Homo sapiens: one gene and its partner. The protein of the gene in region 2 purifies or fractionates together with the protein of the main gene of each other region. This does not show direct contact. Each region holds a gene or a part of one and is shown on either strand. Other genes may lie near its edges.

Region 1 (3,755 bases), on a different chromosome or scaffold from region 2:
CAGAATCAATCTAAGTATCTATCAAGGGATGAATGTGTAAAGAAAATGTGGTATATGTACACAATGGAATACTATGCAACCATAAAAAAGAATGGGCTGGGCACGGTGGCTCACGCCTGTAATCCCAGCACTTTGGGAGGCCGAGGCAGGCAGATCATGAGGTCAGGAGATTGAGACCATCCTGGCTAACACAGTGAAACCCCGTCTCTACTAAATATACAAAAAATTAGCCGGGCGTGGTGGCGGCTGCCTGTAGTCCCAGCTACTCGGGAGGCTGAGGCAGGAGAATGGCGTGAATCCAGGAGGCGGAGCTTGCAGTGAGCCGAGATGGCACCACTGCACTCCAGCCTGGGACTCCAGCCTGAGACTCCGTCTCAAAAAAAAAAAAGAATGAAATCTTTTCATTTGTAGGAACATGGGTGGAACTGGAGGTCATTATATTAAGTGAAAAAAGCCAAGCACAGAAAGACAAGTATCACATGTTCCCACTCATATGTGGGAACTTAAAAAGTTGATCTTGGCCGGACAAGGTGGCTCACACCTGTAATCTCAGCACTTTGGGAGGCCGAGGTGGGCAGATCACCTGAGGGTGGGAGTTCGAGACCAGCCTGACCAACATGGGGAAACCCCATCTCCATTAAAAATACAAAATTAGCCGGGTGTGGTGGTGCATGCCTATAATCCCAGCTACTCGGGAGGCTGAAGCAGGAAAATCGCCTGAACCCAGGAGGTGGAGGTTGCAGTGAGCCGAGTTCGTGCCATCACACTCCAGCCTGGGAAACAAGAGCAAAAACTCCGTCTCAAAAAAACAAAAACAACAAAGTTGATCTCATAAAGGTAAAGAAAAGAATGGTATCAGAGGCTGGGAATGTTGCATGTGGGGGTGGATGAAGAGAGGTAGTTTAATGGGTACAAACTTACAATTAAATAAAAGGAGTAAGTTCTAATGTTTTCTAGCATAGTAGGGTGACTATAGTTAACAATAATATATATTTCAAAGAAGCTAGAAGAGAATAATTTGAATGTTCCCAACACATAGAAATGATAAATGTCCAAGATGATGGATGTCCTAAAGACTGATTTTATCATTACACATTCTGTGTATCAAAATGCCCCATAAACATGTACATATATTATGCAACAATAAAAAAATACCCATTACCGATGAAATGGACAGAAGATGAATATTCAACATTCATAAATGTTTGAATAAACAAGCATAAATTAAGACAGCTTGAAATTAAAACTGTATTTTAAATTAGAAATCCCTGCTTAACATCACAAACGTGAACAGAGAGAGAACATTCAGTTGCTATGGTCAGTATGCAAATTCTTATTACTACTCAGTCTGGAGTTCACCAGCTCTTTCTGTCATACAAGTCAGGCAAAACTGTGTTCTCATTTTCAAAAGTAATTTACCTTGTAATATACTTTGTTCCCATCATGATTCTTTCATGTTAATTCATCCTGATCAAGTAATCTAGAATGTATGCAACCTATGTCCACTTTCTTTCTTTCTTTGTTGAGGCAAGGTCTCCCTCTGTTGCCCAGGCTGGAGTGCAGTGGCACAAACATGGCTCACTGCAGCCTCAGCCTCCCAGGCTCAAACTATTCTCCCACTTCAGCCTTGCAGGTAGCTGGGACCACAGGCACGTGCCACCACATCTAGCTAATTTTTTAAAAAATGTTTTGTAGAGATGGGGTCTTGCCATGTTGCCCAGGCTGGTCTTGGAACTCCTGGGCTCAAGCGATCCTCCTGCTTCAGCCTCCCAAAGTGCTGAGATTACAAGTGTGAGCCACCACCACACCCGCACACCCGACCACCATCAATTCTTTTTTTTTTTTTTTTTTTTGTGCAGCGGAGTTTTGCTCATCGCCCAGGCTGGAGTGCAATGGTGTGATCTCGGCTCACCGCAACCTCACCTCCCGGGTTCAAGCAATTCCCCTGCCTCAGTCTCCCCAGTAGCTGGGATTACAGGTATGCGCCACCATGCCCAGCTAATTTTGCATTTTTAGTAGAGACAGGGTTTCTCTATGTTGGTCAGGCTGGTCTCGAACTCCCAACCTCAGGTGATCCTCCCGCCTCAGCCTCCCAAAGTGCTGGGATTACAGGTGTGAGCCACCGTGCCCAGCCGACCACCAGCAATTCTTGACCATAATTTCAACTGTCTCAAAGTGAAAGGAGAGCAATTATGCTAAAAATCCTTTAAAATTACCTCTAAAGGCTTCCATTTGTTTCTGAATACCCGTATGCATACAAAAGTCAAACATCAAATCCACATATTCTTCTGCATTATCCATTGTTATCATCTGCAAAAGAAAATTTGTCAGTATCTAGGAATATTTCAGGAGTGTCTAGTACAACTGGCCTTGCTAAGAGGATATGTCAGAACTTACAACTATATTAAAAGCAAACTTTTTACCTCATCTTCACCACTTGGCTTGAGATCCACAGCTGTAAAACCATATATTCTTGAGGAAGGGCAAAACTGGAAATTTAAACTGGGAGGACAAAAAAGATTAAATTAACTGACATGCAGCTACTACTAATGGTGTTTAATTTTTATAACATTACTATCATCTGCCATCAGTGGGTACAAGAGAAAAAATTAAATAAAATAACATGGCTATCAAAACCATAAATCCCACCCCTCTCCTCCTCCAACAAAATCAGTACACCAGCTTAGAAGTAAGTTGAGGACTTTTTAAATGCAATATTCTATGGACAAAATCTACTAGGCCAACTGTTATCAAATCTGTCTGGCTTTGCAAAGATTGCATGAAACCACCTTTCTATATTTTACTTCTAACTTATGGCACAAAATTAATGAACTAAAAATTTTGCAATGAATTATGACAGCAACATGTTTGTAAGACTTTTAGGAAGAAACTGTTGCTTTACTGAAGTCAATCACGCTGTGTACAAAAATATATATTAAAAAAAACCTTGAATATATAACCATTTATCAAACACAGTTTACCAACATTATCAGCAAACATTAAAAAAAAAAGGCCTTGCAGTTAACCTAAAATCACAGCTGAAGATATGATAATTACCTGTACATAAAGTAACAGAGTTTTATCAAAAGTTCTGCAGCATCTCAACTGCTACAGCCTTTGGTGATAAAGCTGACATACCAACCAATTTTTGAGCTTTGCAAAGTGAATCATATATTAGCAGATGAATTTGTCAAAATATTGTTGGCTCTGGACATTTTACACAGGCATATAAATTCACATTGGCTAAGTCAGGTAATCTTCTAAAGGTTTGATGATTAATAAACTAATATTCTAGTATTCTGAGTGTTGTCTTTATAATATTAAATCAAAGGTTCAAGTCGATCATCAATATTTCCTACAGCATATTACTGTTTTTGACAGACTATTTACTCATATATTGCAAATCAGTGACGACAAAGAAACAAAAGCTTTAAAACTTATTCATGCATTGGATTGAAGAATGTACATATAATGCTTACCCTAAATCCTCTATGCTAAGTGGAGGCCCAGAACCTGATGGATTCTTCAGCACTAGTTCCTGTAATTTTGTGTTCTTCTCATCTTCAGAAAGACCTTTGTTGCTTAAAATTTGGCGCCTCTTGATAGCAAGGTCTTTAATTTCTTTTAAAAATCTGGCTCTGTGTGGGTTTACTAATTCAAAGTCTTCCCAAGTCAAAATTCCATTAAACCAAGCTGGGGGTTTTGGTTTAGGGGGATCAAGAATAAATTCTGATTTTGAATCCTCTTCAAAGCTT
Region 2 (3,755 bases):
TAGGGATGGGGTTTCACCTTGTTGGTCAGGCTGGGCTCCTTACCTCAAGTAATCCGCCCACCTCGGCTTCCCAAAGTGCTGGTATTATAGGCATGAACCACTGCACCCAGCCAATTTTTACCATTTTTAATATACATATAAATCTATAAATGTTTGTTCCTTTATGTGAAACAAAAAACTAGCCAACTTATCTGAGACACTAAGGTTTCTACAGATGATAATTACCTGGTGTTTTCAATTAGAAACAGACATATGTATAGTTACATATATTGAATAGATATATATACATCCACACATACATATTTGTGAGGTAACAGCATCATTAATTACTTTTGGCTCTTTCATCTTGTCAGCATTACAGAATGTGTTGCCCTTATGCATTAGTAACAATTTAAAATACCTTAACGTAGAAGGAAATCACTTAAAAGAGCCCAAATAATCAACAGAGTTATTTAAGATTGAGTCTGTCTGTAGGAATTGAGTCTAAGGTTAGAGAGATGTGGGGACAACAGAATCACACTTGTCATTAAGGCCTTTGAGACACATGTATTATTTGGCTAAAAAATGCATGACTACAAAATAAAATAAATACCTTCATATAGGCAAATTCCTTCATGGCAGAGAGACGAGATAAATATAGCCATGACACATTGTGCCTATGTTTATGATAATCGCGTTTGTTTTTCAAATTTCGAAACGAGGTTCTTCCTAGTCTGTGAAGCTTTAATGCAAATTGTTGTCCTTCTTCATTTGCAACAATGTAAATATCTAGAGACAAAATTTCAAAAACAACCATTATTACACGTTTATTCCAATCAGTTAAAACAATTCTAACTTTCTCTAATTTTATTTGTATCAAAAATGTCATTTTTCCTAATAAAGATTGAGTATCCCTCCTTATCCAAAACCTTCGGACCAGAAGTGTTTTGAATTTTGGATTCTGGTATATTTGCACATAAATAATGATATATCTTGGGAGTTATTAGAAGAAAATTAATTCCTGGTATAAATGAATTTTCAGTGATAGACGTTCAGAGAAAATAATAACCTACTAATTAAGGACACCTTCTGATTTGTACTGCTTCCAATCAACTTTCCAACTTACTGTTTAGTTAGAAAAAAGGGAAAATTAAAAGAGGAAAGGTTTCTGAAGGGAAAACATAAACTAAAGCAAAGAAAATACTTTGCACAGTACTATTAGCACTTACCTGATTCTTTGCCAACACCCATCTGGTTTCCAACAGACTCAACTACTTGCCTAGAAGAAAGTGTTTTCAAAGCTAGGTAATCATATCCTGCATTTGTCAACCGATAGCCCTGGACAGCTAGACAAAAATCAAAGCATAAAGACCATATTTCAGTTACATTGTACAACCAAGTCACGTAAGTTCAAGTCATAAGAAAGATTTAACAATAAAGTCTTCATTGGAAAAAGATAAACTGCCCAGGCTCACAAGCTTCCAATTTCTTCCTATAATTTGCATTTCTTCTCCAGTGTACTGATAATCAAAATGTGACCTACAGACAGGTCTGTAAGTGTTTGTGACAAGATAAAAGGAGGAATTTAAGTTCAATTTGTATATCAATTTGACCTAGAATTTATGTCTGTTTTTGTATATCTGTTATCCATTTCATTTTTCTAGTAATTATTTTTTTGTATTTTATAAAAGTAAGGATCTGTGATAGGTTGGAAAAAACTAATCCTTCACCACAGATGGTTTCAGAAGTAATGATCTAGGGTATGACTACTGATTGTATTTTCCAAAGATGGTAGCCACAATAGCTTTATCCTATATGCTCTTCTGCAGTACCTACATGCTCTTCATGCTCTTCTACAGTACCTACATGCTCTTCTGCAGTACCTACATGCTCTTCATGCTCTTCTACAGTACCTACATGCTTTTCTGCAGTACCTACTTGCTCTTCTGCAGTACCTACATGCTCTTCTGCAGTACCTACATGCTCTTCTGCAGTGCTCTACCTGCTCTTCTGCAGTACTCTACCTGCTCTTATGCAGTACCTACGTGCTCTTCTGCAGTACCTACGTGCTCTTCTGTACTCTACATGCTCTTCTGCAGTACTCTATGTGCTCTTCTGCAGTACCTACGTGCTCTTCTGTACTCTACATGCTCTTCTGCAGTACTCTACCTGCTCTTCTGCAGTACTCTACCTGCTCTTCTGCAGTACCTACGTGCTCTTCTGCAGTACCTACGTGCTCTTCTGCAGTACTCTACATGCTCTTCTGCAGTACTCTACATGCTCTTCTGCAGTACTCTACGTGCTCTTCTGCAGTACCTACATGCTCTTCTGCAGTACCTACATGTTCTTACTACTATTCTTTTTTCACCTCCTTTGATCTGGGTGTGCCCTGTGATTATTTTGACTAATAGGATATGGCCGAAGTGTGTTCTGTCAGTTCTTCGTCTAATGCTTTACTAGTCTGGCAACTTCTACTTCTTGACTTTTGGAACACTTGCTCTGGTGGAAACCAATTACCTGAAAAATCACAAATGGTGCCTCAAAATACTTACTTTTGGTACGCTCCCAAGCTATGAGTTTATGTTTCACTAATTCTCTTAAAACTTTATTACAGCCACCATGTTTAAGGCTGGCTATAGAAGCAATCAAACTGCCGGGAACAATTTCATGGTTCTTCATGCCCATTTCAACCTGAAATTAAAGGAATCATTATATAATCATAATCAACACAAAGCCTTGTCTATCAAAACCCTGCGAAATTAACTTCTCCTTGAAGCTTTCCTGACTATGCAGTTCTCCAACTAATTCTGAGACATAATCACTTCCGTCTCTTGAAAATATTTTTAATTGCAATTTGAAATCTAATCATTGATATTTGTATTGGCTTTCCATTTCAAGAGTAGGAACTGTGAGTGCTAGACATACTGATGACATTTGGTCAATGCTAAAATACTTGATGACACCTAAACATTTGTCTTTAAAAACTACAGATATGCCAGATATTTATTAAGCAGGTATTTAATGAGAAAGTACTACATGTAGGCATCGTAGAGGATATATATATATATATGAATGATAGACTGGATAAAGAAAATGTGGCACATATACACCATGGAATACTATGCAGCCATAAAAAAGGATGAGTTCATGCCTTTTGCAGGGACATGGGTGAAGCTGGAAACCATCATTCTCAGAAAACTAACACAAGAGCAGAAAACCAAACACCACATTTTCTCACTCATAAGTGGGAGTTGAACAGTAAGAATACGTGGACACAGAAAGGGGAACATCACACACTGGGGCCTGTCGGGGGGTGGGGGGCTAGGGGAGGGATAGCATTAGGAGAAATACCTAATGTAGATGGGATGGGTTGATGGGTACAGCAAACCACTATAGCATGTGTATACCTATGTAACAAACCTGCACGTTCTGCACATGTACCCCAGAACTTAAAAGTATTTTATATATATATATAATATATATATATAAAATATATATATATTATATATATATAATATATATATAATATATATATTATATATATATTTTTAAATTTATTCCTCAGAGGTAAAAAGCACATATATATATATCTCTATCCTACATGCTCTTCTGCATGTGTATATGTATATATATATATATGTATATATATATATATATATGTGCTTTTTACCTCTGAGAAATTTTTATCTCATGATGGAAATTTTAAAAAATGGTATACATCTAAGTTTATTAGAAGTTAAGAAGTGATAAGTGCTTAAAAAGGTAGCTCAGGGCAG

What was found. Proteins that work in one complex are often made in the same cells at the same time.
Region 1: the proteins of RIOK2 (region 2) and HECTD1 purify together in Homo sapiens (affinity purification with mass spectrometry; 2 studies listed by BioGRID and IntAct, with this or other methods). This does not show direct contact.

The regions. Positions count from the first base shown.
Region 1 is NC_000014.9:31,103,167-31,106,921, forward strand, and holds part of HECTD1 (E3 ubiquitin-protein ligase HECTD1), read right to left. Parts: coding exon 3,480-3,755; intron 2,503-3,479; coding exon 2,424-2,502; intron 2,311-2,423; coding exon 2,217-2,310; intron 1-2,216. UniProt on the Homo sapiens protein: E3 ubiquitin-protein ligase which accepts ubiquitin from an E2 ubiquitin-conjugating enzyme in the form of a thioester and then directly transfers the ubiquitin to targeted substrates.
Region 2 is NC_000005.10:97,176,524-97,180,278, forward strand, and holds part of RIOK2 (serine/threonine-protein kinase RIO2), read right to left. Parts: intron 2,671-3,755; coding exon 2,532-2,670; intron 1,326-2,531; coding exon 1,209-1,325; intron 769-1,208; coding exon 593-768; intron 1-592. UniProt on the Homo sapiens protein: Serine/threonine-protein kinase involved in the final steps of cytoplasmic maturation of the 40S ribosomal subunit. Involved in export of the 40S pre-ribosome particles (pre-40S) from the nucleus to the cytoplasm.